2 separate regions of the Homo sapiens genome follow, and region 2 is linked to region 1. A link means that fine-mapping ties the variant in region 1 to the expression of a gene that starts in the linked region. Tissue or cell type: atrial appendage. Region 1 holds a variant in brackets; the other region holds the start of a gene. All regions are shown on one strand. Distances are between the middles of the regions.

Evidence for each region. PIP is the estimated chance that this variant, and not a neighbour inherited with it, causes the effect.
Region 2: it holds the start of BAD, and the variant in region 1 is fine-mapped to the expression of BAD in atrial appendage (GTEx, PIP above 0.99).

What each region holds. Positions count from the first base shown.
Region 1 is chr11:64,408,397-64,416,396 of GRCh38, forward strand. It overlaps LOC105369341 (a long non-coding RNA gene), which reads right to left. Exons shown (of 4, transcript XR_001748069.2): 3 at 3,764-3,819; 4 at 1,682-2,521. Among named protein-coding and RNA genes, the nearest start is that of LINC02723, 17 kb to the left of the region's middle. RefSeq lists enhancers at 7,300-7,800, 7,801-8,000. The variant G/A (reference allele first, on the strand shown) is at 4,237.
Region 2 is chr11:64,280,974-64,288,973 of GRCh38, forward strand. It overlaps BAD (BCL2 associated agonist of cell death), which reads right to left and starts at 3,692. Exons shown (of 4, transcript NM_032989.3): 1 at 3,658-3,692; 2 at 3,209-3,403. The coding sequence starts at 3,395. It overlaps GPR137 (G protein-coupled receptor 137), which reads left to right and starts at 4,875. Exons shown (of 7, transcript NM_001170880.2): 1 at 4,875-5,908; 2 at 5,992-6,041; 3 at 6,748-6,973; 4 at 7,092-7,241; 5 at 7,367-7,495; 6 at 7,630-7,748. The coding sequence starts at 5,552. RefSeq lists silencers at 3,572-3,861, 4,212-4,951.

The DNA of each region.
Region 1 (8,000 bases):
ACCATGGCCTCCCAAAGTGTTGGGATTACAGGTGTGAGCCACCTCGCCTGGCCCCGATCTCTCCATATAAGGACACTCACCCCATCATGAGGGCTCTTCCAAGAGCTCCTAAAGGGCGTCTTGGTCATTGAATGAGAGTTACAGATAAAGATTCTTTGCTCGGCCAAACTTTAGTCAGGCTTCTGAATCTTCTGCTAGGCCCATCTGTGCACTTCCTTGTAAAATGCAGTTCTAGGCCAGGCGCGGTGGCTCACGCCTGTAATCCCAGCACTCTAAGAGGCTGAGGTGGGCGGATCACTTGAGGTCAGAAGTTCGAGACCAGCTTGCAACATGGTGAAACCCTGTCTCCACCAAAAAAATACAAAAGTTGGCTGGGCGTGGTGGTGCATGCCTGTAATCCCAGCTACTTGGGAGGCTGAGGCAGGAGAATCACTTGAACCCGGGAGATGGAGGTTGCAGTGAGCTGAGATCATGCCCCTGCACTTCAGCCTGGGCCACAGAGTGAGATTCCGTCTCAAAAAAAAAAAAAAAAAAATCCAGTTTTAGCGAAAGAACCCTGGCCTGTGTCAGCAAGAATCCTGTTAGGTCGGGTTAAGCAGAATCTCCCCTACCCCTTGGTAATTTTCCATCCACTGACCCCCACACTCCTTGGCCATAAATTCCTACTTGCCTGTGCTATATTCAGAGTGGAGCCTAATCTCTCTCCCCTACCGCAAGATCTTATTGTGGGGGTCCCTGTATCAATCTCCACGGTCCTGGATAAAGTTGGCTCGGCCATGCTTTACCAATGTCATGGAATAATTGTTTCTTTAACATTCACCAAGGCCTTCTTGGTCATTGCACCGACAGCTGGAGATCCGAGGTGTTGATCACTCAGCATCGCCTCCTCCACGGTCACCTGAGAACAGATTCCAGGACCCAGGGGAGGGTTGCGGCTAATGAGCAGAAGCTCGATGTCAGACTTCTGGATCATCGGACCCAGGGTCTCTGCCGGCCACTCTGAATTAAGCGCTCCTGTTCACAGGCAGATGGTGCAGACCGTGCCCCTGGGGCTCAGGCAGGTCCAGAGAGAGGAGAGAGCAGAGAGCAGGCCCCGGCCTTTTCTTGTAGTACTCTTGCCCCTCCGCCCCTCCGTCCCCCCGCCCCCACCACCTCCGGGTGCAGTCGGACTCCCGAGCTTCGCGCTTCGCATCGGATAAATCACTGCACCTCTTGGGAGCTCAGGGAATGAGGGCCTGCGCAGCCGGGCCAAGGGCACCAGGACTTTGTGAGTGGGGAAGGGAGTGGGAATCCTTTCAACTATGGCTGAGGCATTTGCGGGAAACAGTTCATTCCCCAATCCCCCTCGCTATCCCCCACAACTACTGAGCTTCCTCTCCCTCCTCCCGGCACCCCCTCTCCCCTCCCCGCCTCCTTCTCTCTCTGGTTCCTTTGCACACACCAGTCTTCTGCCTACAGGCCCTTCCTCTCCATCCTGGCCTACGAGACTCCTGCGCACCCCTCAAGAATCTGCTCTGTCCGGCTCCGGGAAGTCTTGCCACACTTTCCAGTGGCTTAGGGGGCCCCTCCCTGTTCATCCCCCTCCCGCCTGTTCTTCCCCCTCCCTCTTCTTCCCCCTCCCTCCTGTCTCTGGCTCATTTCATGTAGTTCCCATTTGATTTCTTCTTGCACACCCTTTTCAGTTTATGTTCTCTTGCTGTATTTTATGAATGCTCATTAAGCCACCTTAAATCCCATCTGGAATGACTTGGGAGGGGGCCAATGCTGCTGCCCTGTGACTCTTGAGAGTTTGATATAAGACGACCACAGCCGCCAGCTGCAGCCCACGTCCTGGGACTGGAAGATCTCATGATTAGCTCTCCTGGCTCTGCACCAGCTGCCTAAGAAACGTGAGCCTTCTCAAGCTGCCGCCATGAAATATCTGTCCATAAAGATGACTTTTATGGGGAGCCGTGCTGTGGTTCTGAAACGAGATTGACACCTTAGCTTGGTTCATGCATATAGCACTCCTGGGAATTATGTGGAAGAAAGGTCTGGCCATGGGGCCGGGGTCGGGGGAGGCAGGCGAGGTGGAGGTGCCCAGGGTGTGAAAACTGAGGAAGTGATGACTCTCAGGCTGTGCCAGAGCTGGGTGGACACTGCCTGGCCCCACGTGATGTCCCCCAGTGTGTCCCCTCCCTGCCTCCTGCTGTCTCATCCCAGATGAAGGCTCTCACTTCCACGCCAGGCTCTGCCTATCTCAGGATGAGACTGTCAACTCCGTCCACAGGAGATGCCACACGTGTTGTAAACAGATGTGACTGGCATAGAATATTCCCCAAGTCTGAGTTGTGTGGTTTTGAGTGACACATGTCCTGAATGGGACACTCCTATCCAATCCAGATCCTTCCATGCAGCCTCGCCTCCATGCCAGCAGATCTGCTGAGTTGTCTTTGCATTCTTGGTTTCCTATCTCCTGGATAGGATGGATGCCTGTCTGACACATGCATGTGTACACACACGCACACATGCACACCCACCTCTGCAAAGCAAATACAAATACATGGGCTTAGGTGAATTGGAATCCATTCATTTGTCAGATATTTCTTAGGCATGTTCTCTATGCTGGGCACTGTCCCACACAATGAGGACATAGCAAGGAACAAAAAAGGGAAAAGTCCCACCCTCATGGAGCTTATATTTTGGGGTAGGAGTCAGTCCATAGATACAAGCCTAAGGAATAAAATATGCCATATGCTAGGCAAGACTACATCAAGGAAGGGGTGGGAGTGTTGGGATGGAGCTGAAACTTCAGGAAGGACCAGCCAAGGAGGCCTAAAGGCATGAGGAAGTGAGCAGTAAGCCCACAGATGTCAGGACAGGAGATCCAACAAAGAGCTGGGGGTAGCAGGTATGTGGGGGCAGCAGGAGGCCAGTGGGTGGCCAGAGAGAGAGAGAGAACCCAGGATCACAGTGGGGACAAGGTGGGGGAACACAGTGGCCTGGTGGGTTGTAGGAAGGACTTTGGCTTTGACCACGATGCGATGCTGCTTGGGGAGGTTTAAAGCAGGGGCAGGGCGGGAGATGGGACCTGACTTTCGATTTAACAGGATCCCCCTGGCTGCCTCGAGGAACGCAGGCCTCTGAGGGTCGGAACTGGACTGGGAGGCTGGTCAGCAGGCTCCTGCTGTCCTCTGTTGGGAGGTGACAGTGGCTAAGACTGGCATGGAGGCAGCGAGGTGGTGGTAAGTGACAAATTGTGTGTGTGTGTGTGTGTGTGTCTTTTTTTTTTAATTTTTAAATTTTTATTTATTTATTTTTGAGACGGAGTCTTGCTCTGTCACCCAGGCTGGAGTGCAAGATCTCGGCTCACTGCAACCTTCGCCTCCCGAGTTCAAGCAGTTCTCTTGCCTCAGGCTCCCAAGTATCTGGGATTATAGGCGCTTGCCACCATGCTCTGCTAATTTTTGTATTTTTAGTAGAGACAGGGTTTCACCACCTTGGCCAGGCTGGTCTCCAACTCCTGACCTCAGGTGATCCGCCCGCCTCAGCCTCCTAAAATGTTGGGATTACAGGTGTGAGCCACCGCACCCAACCTAGATTCTGGGTATATTTGTATATATTTTGAGTGCAAAGCTGATGGGATTGACTGACAGGTGGGATGTATGGGAGTGGGAGAGAAGCCAAGGAAGAGCCAAGGCTGATTAGTTGGTTTATTTATTCGGGTAAAATTCACATAATGTTAATTTAACCATTTTAGAGTGTATTCAGAGGTATTTAGTACCTTCACAGTGTTGTTCCATCATCGCCTCTGTCTCATCCCCAAACATTTCCATCAGCCTGAAAGGAAAACTTTGTATGCATTAAACAGTCACTCCTTCTTCCCCCTCCCGGAGCCCCTGACAAGCATGAATCTGCTTTCTGTCTCTATGGATTTACCTATTCTGGTAAATCACTTAGCATAATGTCTTCAAATTTCAGCTATGTGGTAGCATGTGTCAATTTCCTTCCTTTTTAAGGCTGAATAATATTCCACTGTATGGCTAGACCACATTTGTTTAGTCATTCATCTATCCATGGAGATGGGTGTTGTTTCCATGTTTTAGCTACTGTGAATAGTGCTGCTGTGAACATTCATGTACAAGTTTCTCTTTGAACACCTGTTTTTTTCCCTTTTATTTACTTATTTATTTATTTTGAGACAGGGTCTCTTTCTGTTGCACAGGCTGGGGTGCAGTAGCATGATCTCAGCTCACT[G/A]CAGCCTCCACCTCCCGACCCAAGTGATTCTTTTTTTTTTTTTTTTTTGAGTTTCGCTCCTGTTGCCCAGGCTGGAGTGCAATGGCACGATCTTGGCTCATCACAACCTCCGCCTCCCAGGTTCAAGCGATTCTTCTGCTTCAGCCTCCCGAGTAGCTGGGATTACAGGCATGTGCCACCACTCCCGGCTAATTTTGTATTTTTAGTAGAGACGGGGGTTTCTCTAGGTTGGTCAGGCTGGTCTTGAACTCCTGACCTCAGGTGACCGGCCACTTCAGCCTCCCAAAGTGCTGGGATTACAGGCGTGAGCCATCGAGCCCAGCCCCCAGGTGATTCTTTTACCTCAGCCTCTTGAGAGCTGAAACCATGGACATGTGCCAACACACCTGGCTAGTTTTTTAATTTTTTGTACAGACAGAGTTTTGCCATGTTGCCCAGGCTGGTCTCGAACCCCTAGGCTCAAGTGATTGCCCTACCTCAGCCTCCCAAAGTGCTGGGGTTACAGGCTTGAGCCACTGTGCCTGGCCTGAACACCTGTTTTCAATTCTTTGGGGTATGTATACACAGGAGTAAAACTGTAGGATGGTATAGTAATTCCATGCTTAACTTTGCGAGGAACGGCCAAGCTGTTCTCCACAGCAGCAGTACCATTTGACATTCCCATCAGCAAGGTACAAGGGTTCCTCTTTTTCCATATCCCCGCCAACACTTGCTATTGTCTGTGTGTGTTTTTTTAAATTATAGCCATCCTGGAGGGTGGGCGGTGGTATCTCATTGCAGGTTAGATTTGCAGTCCCTAATGACTAATGATGGTGAGCATCTTTTCATGTGCTTCTTGGCCATTTGTGGAGCCAAGGGGCTTAACCTGAGCAACCAGAGGAAGGATGGAGCTGCAAAGAAGCAAGATGGGGAACGTGGAGGGAGAGGAGGTCGGTTTGACAGGCTGAGTTTGATGTCCCCAAATGGAGAGGTCCAACTGTTGGAGGCCTGTGAACCAGAGCGACTCCATGTTGAATAGGAGCTGTGTAAAATGAGGCTGAAACCTCCTGAGCTGCATTCCCAGACAGTTAAGGCACTCTAAGTCACAGGATGAGATAGGGGTCAGCACAAGATACAGGTCCTGAAGACCTTGCTGATAAAACAGGTTGCACTAAAGAAGCTGGCTAAAACCCACCAAAACCAAGATGACCACAACAGTGACCTCTGGTTGTCCTCACTGCTCCAATCCTATCAGCGCCACGACAGTTTACAGATGCCATGGCAATGTCAGGAAGTTACCCTATATGGTCTAAAAAGGGGAGGCATGAATAATCCATCCCTTGTTTAGTAGATCATCAAGAAATAACCATAAAAATAGGCAACCAGCAGCCCTTGGGGCTGCTCTGTCTATAGAGTAGCCATTATTTTATTCCACGACATTTTTTTTTTTTTTTGAGACGGAGTCTCGCTGTGTCGCCCAGGCTGGAGTGCAGTGGCGTGATCTTGGCTCACTGCAACATCCACCTCCCAGGTTTAAGTGATTCTCCTGCCTCAGCCCCCCAAGTAGCTGGGATTACAGGTGCCCGCCACCATACCTGGCTAATTTTTCTTTTTTTTCTTGTTTTTTTGAGACGGAGTCTCACTCTGTTGGCCAAGCTGGAGTGCAGTGGCGCGATCTCGGTTCATGGCAACTTCCACCTCCCAGGTTCAAGCGATTCTCCTGCCTCAGCGTCCCGAGTAGCTGGGACTACAGGTGCATGCCACCATGCCCAGCTAATTTTTTGTATTTTTAGTAGAAACGGATTTCAACATGTTGGCCAGGCTGGTTTCACACTCCTGACCTCAGGTGAACTGCCCGCCTCGGTCTCCCAAAGTGCTGGGATTACAGGCATGAGCCACTGCCCCCGACCTAATTTTTGTATTTTTAGTAGAGATGGGGTTTCACCATGTTGGCCAGGCTGGTCTCGAACCCCTGACCTCAGGTGATCCACCCACCTCGGCCTCCCAAAGTGCTGGGATTACAGGCGTGAACCACTGCGCCTGGCCAATTTTTTGTATTTTTAGTAGAGACGGGGTTTCACCATGTTGGCCAGGCTGGTCTTGAACTCCTGACGTCGTGATTCGCCTGCCTCGGCCTCCCAGAGTGCTGGGATGACAGGCGTGAGCCACCACGCCTGGCCTATTCCTCTACTTTCTTAATAAACTTGCTTTCACTTTACGGACTCACCCTGAATTCTTTCTTGCATGAGATCCAAGAACCCTCTCTTGGGGTTTGCATCAGGACCCCCTTCCTGTAACACAACTGTAGTTGGCTGTGACTCAGGGGGTTCGGGGGAGGCCTGGGCTAGAGGTATGAACTTGGATGTGATCCACGAGGTGCAAGCGTGAGTCGGGCACACCCACAGTACAGGCCGGCCCATGAGGAGGAAGATGGGGCAAGAGTGGGGAGAAGACCAGGTGCACGAGGCCCCTGGAGGCCCTGGAGGGAGTGTTTCAAAGAAGGGAGGGTGAGCACCTGGGTCCTATGCTCTGGTGATTGAGTACCACAGAGCTGACAGCTGACTTGGCAGAGCAAGGTGACCTTGACAAGGGCAGTTTGGGCTGCAAGCCTGCCTTGAGTGGGCTTTGCGAGAGGACAGGAAGTGTGTGAGTGGAAAGGGGAGAGACTGCTCTTCAGAGGCTTCGGGGCCTTTGCTGTCAAGGGAAGGAGGGAAATAAGATGGCATTTGAAAAAGGAGTGAGATGAAGAGAGTTTAAGATGTAAGCAGGGAGGACGCAGAGCTGACGGGATGCCTGACCGATGCCCTGGAGCCTGGGGGAGGGGCAGATGTGCTGTGGGGGTGGAGGAAGTTCTTAGCTTAAAAGGATGCACCAGCTCTGAGGGGAGTGGGGGAGGAAGATAGGGGTCTGAGGAGAGGGGAGGAGGTGGGAGGGGAGCGTGGGCCCAGGGGTGCAGCATGCTTGCCGGGAAGCGTTACAGTGGCCCATTTGAAGTTAGCTCAGGAATCGAGATGTTGAAAAGACAGCTGTGTCTTACGCACACATAATCTGCAGGGCACAGCTATGTAACCGTAAGGACAATTGTTTACATTTGTAAACGGAACCCTTTAACGCCGTGGAAAAGCCACTGTGCGCCTAATTCATTCTAGAAGGCCTGTGTGCTACATCTGCCTAACTCAGGGTTTCTAACCTGGGCTCCCCGAGGGCCTCAGGCATATTTTCAACACCTTCAATTCCCTTACAAGAATAGTTTTGGGAGTTTCATGTCACTGATAACTTAAATGCTTGATGCTGGTCCACCCGGATGACTACATATGAGTGCACATTGCCCCGTGGGTTCGTGATCACACGTGTCAGTGCACACTGCCATGTGGGTTGGTGGTCAGAGGTGTGAGTGCACACTGCCATGTGGGTTCATGGTCACAGTTGTGAGTGCACACTGCCATGTGGTTTCATGATCACAGGTGTGAGTGCACACTGCCATGTGGTTTCATGATCACAGGTGTGAGTGCACACTGCCATGTGGGTTTGTGGTCACACAGGTGTGAGTGCACACTGCCATGTGGGTTTGTGGTCACACAGGTGTGAGTGCACACTGCCATGAGGGTTCGTGGCCACAGGTGTGAGTGCACACTGCCATGTGGGTTTGTGGCCACAGGTGTGAGTGCACACTGCCATGTGGGTTCATGATCACAGGTGTGAGTGCACACTGCCATGTGGGTTCCTGGTCACACATGTGTGAGTGCACACTGCCACGTGGGTTCGTGGTCACAGGTGTTTGTGTT
Region 2 (8,000 bases), 130 kb before region 1:
AATTTTTTTTTTGAGACGGAATCTTGCTCTGTCACCCAGGCTGGAGTGCAGTGGTGCAATCTCTGCTCACTGCAAGCTCCGCCTCCCGGGCTCACGCCATTCTCCTGCCTCAGCCTCCAGAGTAGCTGGGACTACAGGCGCCCACCACCACGCCCAGAGAATTTTTTGTATTTTTAGTGGAGACGGGGTTCACCGTGTTAGCCAGAATGGTCTCTATCTCCTGACCTCATGATCTGCCCACCTCGAACTACCAAAGTGCTGGGATTATAGGCGTGAGCCACCGCGCCCAGCCTAATAGTTTTTTTAAAATTCCTTGGCATCATCCTGACTCCTCTCTTTCCCTCGCACCCCACATCCAGTCCATCAGCAGATCCTGCCAGTTCTGCTTTAAAAATAAATCCAGGGATCAGCTACTTCTCACCACCTCCCTGGTGACTCTCTGAATGTCTAAATCTGACCATGCTGCCTCTGCTCAAATCCTTTCCAGGTTTTTACTCAAAGGCAATGCCAGAGTCCTTAGAATGACCTTCAACTTTAGGTCTCCAAATACCCTTTCCTAAACCCCCTCCCCTAGGCCCACCCTAGCCAGGAGCAGGTGTTGCCCTCGAGGCCTTACCATCTGCCCTTCTCTCTGCCTGGAACTCTCTTCCCATCATCCCTGTGGCCTTGGCTCCAGTGGTGCTTCTCACCAAGGTGAGTGCTGACCACCTCTGCTACCATCACTCCCCCCGCCCCTGTGACTCCGGATTCTCTTAACTCTTTTTTTTGAGATGAGTCTCACTCTGTCGCCAGGCTGGAGTGCAGTGGCACGATCTTGGCTCACTGCAACCTCCGCCTCCCGGGTTCAAGCGATTCTCCTGCCTCAGCCTCCCGAGTAGCTGGGACTATAGGTGCGCGCCACCATGCCCAGCTAATTTTTGTATTTTTGGTAGAGATGGGGTTTCACCATGTTGGCCAGGATGGTCTCCATCTCTTCACCTTGTGATACGCCCACCTAGGCCTCCCAAAGTGTTGGAATTACAGGCGTGAGCCACCGCGCCCGGCCTCTCTTAACTCTTTTACATGCTGCCCCCATACAAATCTTCTCACGCATGATAGGATGCTTTTGTGCTTGTTTGCTCATGGCCCCACCAGCTCACTAGAAGGTAAGCTCCACAAGGGCAAGGATTCCTGACGCTTGGGTTCACCGAGGCCCCCTAGCAACTGGAACAGCCTGTGTCACACGGTGAGCACTCACTGTGTGGCGCGAGTGAATGCTGAGTGTGTGTGGGGGGCAGAGAGCAGGGGAAGTTTGTGAGCAGAAAAATGGCCAAGTGCAAGCTCAGGAAGTTAAAGAAAGCTGTGGAGGCTGAGCATGGTGGCTCACGCCAGTAATCTCAACAGTCTGGGAGGCCAAGGTGAGAGGATTGCTTGGGCCCAGGAATTCGAGACAAGACTGGGCAACAAAGCAAGACCCCACCTCTACAAAAAATAAAAAATGAGCTGGTGTGGTGGCATGCACCTGTGGTCCCAGCTGTTCTGGAGGCTGAGGCAGGAGGATCGTTTGAGCCCAGGAGTTTGAGGCCTGCCTGGGCAACAAAAGGAGACCCCGCCCCTGCCCTCATCTCATGAAAATGTGAAAAATGCTGGGCATGGTGGCTCACGCCTGTAATCCCAACACTGTTGGGAGGCTGAGGCGGGTGGATTACGAGGTCAGGAAATGGAGACCACCCTGGCTAACACGGTGAAACCCCATCTCTAATAAAAATACAAGAAATTAGCCCGGCATGGTGACACGCGCCTGTAGTCCCAGCTACTCTGGAGGCTGAGGCAGGAGAACTGCTTGAACCCAGGAGGCAGAGGTTGCAGTGAGCCGAGATTGCACCACTGCACCCCAGCCTGGGCAGCAGAGTGAGACTCCGTCTCAGGAAAAAAAAAAAAAAAAAAAGAAAAAGTAAAAAATAAATTAACTGGGTGTGGTCCACACACCTGTATTCCCAGTTACGTGGGAGGATCACTTAAGCCCAGAAGTTCCGGGCTGCAGTGAGCTGAGATCGCACCTCTGTACTCCCTCCTGGGTGATAGAGCGAGACCCTGTCTCAAAACAAAACAAAACAAACAGAAAAAAAGAAAGCAAGCTATGGGGTCCAATCTGAGAGAATCGAGTGTGGGTGTTTATCCGTAAGAGAGCGAGGGGAAAGAGGCCTCTTAAGCCTTCTTAATCCTGAAAATGGGGAGGAGGTCTTTTAAGCTGCAGTGCCAGAGTGACATGACCTAGTTTTCTATTTTTAGAGATGGGGTCTGGCTATGTTGCCCAGGCTGGTCTTGAATTCCTGGGCTCAAGCCAGCCTCCTGAGTTGCTGGGACTACAGACATGTGCCACCCCACCCAGCTTGACCTGGTTTTTGTGTTCAGAAGATATCTGTTGTTGTTCCAGGTGCCAAGGCCAGTGCTGGGCACAGGGGTGCTAGAGCCTACTGAGAAATGGACATAGAACCCCAGTGTCCATCCTTCCATCTTGGAGCCTGTGCTTCTCACCCCACACAGCCCTGCTGTCTGGGAGGACTGTCTGCCCCTTGAGGTCATCTGCCCCTGGCCACTGTGCCAGGACAGTCCTGCTGTGGGTACGAGCCACAGGGCAAGAAAGAACACATCTGGGAGCTGGAAGGCCTAATCCCAGGGAAAGCATGTAGCCTGGGGCAGGGCACCAAGGAGGCTTCCAGCCCCCACATTCTAAGGAAAGAAACACCAGGAAGGTGTGGCCTTAGGCAGGCCCCTTTTCCTTTTCGGATCACTGCCTGCCTGTCACTGATTTCTGTCCTAACCCCACACTAATAGCTGCTATATATATATATATGTATTTTAAGAGCTGGAGTCTCCCTAAGTCACTCAGGCTGGCCTTGAACTTCTGGGCTCAAGCGATCCTCCTGCCTTGGCCTCCCAAAGTGCTGAGATTACAGGTGTGAGCCACCACGCCCGGCAGCAACCATTTTTTAGCTTTAATGTGCACCAGCTCTGTAATCAAGTGCATCCTATATGTTCCTGCTAATTAACTCAACAGTCCTACAATGGTGGTTATTAATTGCTGTTTTACGAAAGAGGAAACTGGGGCTCTGAGAGTTTGGGGACCGACCCAAAGCATTCAGTGCCTGTGGATGCAACTGGGATGCAGGGAGCCAGTGGGCTGGGGGTGAGGTGTCCCGGCAGGTGGAGGTGGTGGGGTACTTACCTCCATGATGGCTGCTGCTGGTTGGCTGCTCCTGCTGGTGACTGGCGTCCCACAGGAGGCCTGGGGCCTGGCGATGATGCTTGCCGGAGCCTGAGGGCCCGTCCCCTGCGGGGCTGGGGCCCAGGCCCCTCTCTGCAGAGCTGGAGTCTTCCTGCTCACTCGGCTCAAACTCTGGGATCTGGAACATGCTCTGGGCTGTGAGGACAAGATGTTACGTAGTCAAGGCACAGCTGGGGCCAACGGTGGCCCTGGAAGGCAGAGGCAGGTACCCCTGGCTTCCTCTCCCACCGTAGCGCCCCCAGGCCCGCCAGGCCTCCTGGGCCCTCATCTGTCTGCCGGGTCTGGCCTGGCAGGGAGCTGAGGCTGTCGGCTCAGGACCTCAGTCTCCCCTCAGAACCCCGGTGGACCCAGGCCCCGCCCCGCCCGTGGTGACGGCGCACAGGTCTCACCCCAAGCCCGATCTCGAGGCCCCTGACCCGGGCCTGCCGCCTCCCTCCAGCACCCCGGGCTCCGGGCCCTAGTTGCTTGGGCAACGGGAACTGTCAGCGACCTGGCCCAATCACCTCTCGGAACGTCACTCGGGTAGGTCCAGAGGCGGGGTCAACCCGGCCCGGCCCCGCCCCCCCGCCGGATCCAAGGCTCCTCGTCCGCATCCTTTTTCCTCCCTCCTTCGGCCCCGGGGCTCACATCCTCGCTGCCTCACACCTTGGGCGTGTGTGGGAGCAGGAGAGGGATTCTCTGGGGTCCCCATTTGGAACCTGGAGACCCACTTCTGCCAACAAGTCCTTCAGCCCCTCTGGGCCTTAGTTTCCCCCCAGTGAAGTGGGGATAGTGACAGCTCCCCCGGGAGCCAGTGAAAACTTTGTGAAGGGAGTGATTACTGCGGGCGAAGGCGCTTGGCACAGCCACAACTGAAGCTCAGCCGTCGGATGTGATTATTGTTGCTATTGTTACCGCTCCGCCTGGACTGGGTGCCCGGTCGGAAAGTCCCGCTCCCCGCTCCTCCTCCCAGGCGCGGAAGCTTCGCGCCGCCCGCCTCGGGGGACACCTCCCGCGCCATCTCGGGGGCACTGGAGATAAGGAAAGGAACCTCCTCCCTGGCTGGGATGGCTGCCCGGGCGCGGGAGGAGGGCCGGGGACCCGGTGAGGGAGGACCGTAGGGCCCGTGGGGGCTTCACGCCTGGCAGGCGGCCGGCCAGGTGAGCAGGGCCGCGGGCGCGCCGGGGCGAGGGGCGGGCCCGCGCGGGGGATTCGGGGCTCCGCGGGTTCAGGCCCGGGGGCGGGGCCCGGGGGCCATCTTGGCTATGGGCGGAAGTTTTCTTCAGAGACCGAGGGACGGGAATCCGTTGCCGCCCCCGGCCGGGCGGCACGACCCCGATTTGGGTATAGGAGAGAGGAGCGTGGGAACTGGCGGACCCCCATACAAGTAAAGGCGGGCGGCACGGGGCACGGCCCACCCGGGGACCCCCTGGATGCGGCACGGCCCCCGCAACTCGGCCGCCCTCCTGCCGCCTCCCGTAACCCCGGGCGCCCGCCAGCGGCGCAGCTCGCGCCAATTCTCGTACGGTTTCACGCCGGGTGCGGCGCTGGACTGCGGAGCCAGCCGGGCCGCTGCGCAATTTGCGTAGCGAACGGCGCCCGCGCAGGCGCGGAGGGGGAGGGGGGCGGAGCAGCGGGAGCCGGGGAGCCGGAGCCCCGGGTCCCCACGACCTGAGCCGGCTCTCCCATCAGCGGCCTGAGGACCTGGCGTCCGCCTCCTCCCTCCCCTTGAGGCTGGAGCGTGGACGCGGTGGGGGAGGGTGGGGCGGGGGCAGCTTTCGAGAATTACGAGGACAGGAGGCAGAGGCCCTCCCCATCCGCATTATTGGAGGAGAGAGAGCCTCCCCCAGCTTGGGGAGGGGGAGAGCGGGGCATTGGGCGCCCCTCGCAGCGGCCGCTGCCCTGACCCGACGGGTATCAGCCGGCTCTCCCCCTCCACCCAGGACGACATGAACGACCGAGGCCAGGGAGTCCTCTCCTTGGGCCTCTGCATCCCCCCATCCTTGGCTCTGGGGTAGGCCCAGGGAGGAGACACCCCCAACCCCTATCCGGTCTGTCCTGGAGAAAAGAGACTGCCCTTCCATGCCCCTGAGTGAGGGGCCTGGGGCCCAGGCTGCCTGTGTTCCCCAAGGGCAAGGGTCTCTCTGTTGAGGAGGAGGGGCCTGTCAGCCACAACTTCTTTCCTCCTGAGCGCCCCATCTCCCTCTCTGCACCCTGCAATTCCCACCCCTCCGTATTTATTTCCCTGGTCCCGCCGACAGTCCCTCCTTGTCTGTCTCCGGGATTCAGGCCTCCCTCCCTGACATGGAGAGTAACCTGTCTGGCCTGGTGCCTGCTGCCGGGCTGGTGCCTGCGCTGCCACCTGCTGTGACCCTGGGGCTGACAGCTGCCTACACCACCCTGTATGCCCTGCTCTTCTTCTCCGTCTATGCCCAGCTCTGGCTGGTGCTTCTGTATGGGCACAAGCGTCTCAGCTATCAGACGGTGTTCCTGGCCCTCTGTCTGCTCTGGGCCGCCTTGCGTACCACCCTCTTCTCCTTCTACTTCCGAGATACTCCCCGCGCCAACCGCCTGGGGCCCTTGCCCTTCTGGCTTCTCTACTGCTGCCCCGTCTGCCTGCAGTTCTTCACCTTGACGCTTATGAACCTCTACTTTGCCCAGGTAACCAACTGTGGTCCCGGGTGGGGGGCGGGAGGTGGCAAGCCTCAAGGACCCACAGGAGTGAAGGGCATCTCTGCTCCTAGGTGGTGTTCAAGGCCAAGGTGAAGCGTCGGCCGGAGATGAGCCGAGGCTTGTAAGTACTCGGGACACTGGTGGGCTCAGCCTCCAGGTCAGGGGCAGGTGACAGTCCCATGTAGATCCCTTCCCACCTCTCAGGGCTGAGACAAAGGCAACCCAGGGAATGTCTGTGGAAGATCTTGGAAAAGTTAAAGCACCTGGCGCAGATGGCTCAGCAGAGGCCTTGCAGATCTGCAAGGCACAGGAATAGGAATGCTTGTGGTAGTGTGAGGGAGAGGGCCCCAGTGTCATCCACCATGGAGGGCGAGCTGGAGGCTCCAGCCCATGGAAGCACCAAAGCCATATGCACTCCTGGGTGACCTGGGGCCGCAATGCCCTCGTCATTTGTACAGTGTCTTACGGTTTATAAAGAGCTTTCCCAGCCATCTTTTATTTGTACAATTTCCCTGAGAGGCTACTATCCTCCCTTGAGAGATGAAGAAACTGAGGCCCAGCCAGGTAAGACAGCAGGATCAAGGTCGCAGAGCTGGGGCTCAGACAGAGACTTCTGACTCCAGTTGGTGCACCTTCCGAAGTACCATGGCTGTCAGTCACCTTCTGACCTTTTTGGGCCTCAGTTTCTCCATCTGTAAGAGTGGAGGAACAGGGCTCAGACTGGATGCCCTGAGTTTTGTCGACATTGGGGTTTCCTGCAGGAGGTGGGGCAGGTGGTGAGTGCTGAGGGCTGTTGAGGGCCCGCGCTGACTGTGCTGTGGCTGCAGGCTCGCTGTCCGAGGGGCCTTTGTGGGGGCCTCGCTGCTCTTTCTGCTGGTGAACGTGCTGTGTGCTGTGCTCTCCCATCGGCGCCGGGCACAGCCCTGGGCCCTGCTGCTTGTCCGCGTCCTGGTGAGCGACTCCCTGTTCGTCATCTGCGCGCTGTCTCTTGCTGCCTGCCTCTGCCTCGTCGCCAGGCGGGCGCCCTCCACTAGCATCTACCTGGAGGCCAAGGTAGGGCTGCAGCACTGATGCCCAGGTGTCTTTTGGGTCTCTCGGCAGCGGTTCTCAGGGTGTAGAGGAAGCTGGGAGCCTTCTCTCCCTGAGGGTCCTCTGTTGTTACCTGTGCCAGGGGACCAGTGTGTGCCAGGCGGCCGCGATGGGTGGCGCCATGGTCCTGCTCTATGCCAGCCGGGCCTGCTACAACCTGACAGCACTGGCCTTGGCCCCCCAGAGCCGGCTGGACACCTTCGATTACGACTGGTACAATGTGTCTGACCAGGTGGGCATACGCATGTCTGCCACCTCCTTAGTAGCCGTGGCACCTTGGCCCCAGCTGGCCTGGGCCCTGTCCCACTACCCCTTTGGCGTGACTGCAGACTGGCACCAGCCCCTGCCTTCCCACAGGCGGACCTGGTGAATGACCTGGGGAACAAAGGCTACCTGGTATTTGGCCTCATCCTCTTCGTGTGGGAGCTACTGCCCACCACCCTGCTGGTGGGCTTCTTCCGGGTGCACCGGCCCCCACAGGACCTGGTAAGGGTCTGCTCCCTCTTCTGTGGGGCCAGTGGAGGGGGCGGATGTTGCAAATCCTGGGTTGGAGTCTGGGGTTGGGCCTGGGAGGCCAGTGCAGGACAGGAGTAAGTATCGATGATGGCTTCCTCCCCCAGAGCACCAGCCACATCCTCAATGGGCAGGTCTTTGCCTCTCGGTCCTACTTCTTTGACCGGGCTGGGCACTGTGAAGATGAGGGCTGCTCCTGGGAGCACAGCCGGGGTGAGAGCACCAGGTAGGAGCCGTGGCACTGCCTCAGTACCCCTGCCCTACCCGCCCACCCCGCTGGCTCCATCAAGCTATGGGGGACCGAGATAGCCGGGTCTTGCCTTCCACCCCTGCCATGGCCTTTGCTTCCCCATCTGTACTAGGTGAGGTCCCCTGGGTTCCTATTGCTAAAGCCTCCACCTCTTGCCTAGAGATGTACTTTGTCCTGGGCCCCGAAGGTCTAGGTCACAGGGGTTCTGTTCTAAGCCTGTCTTCCTCC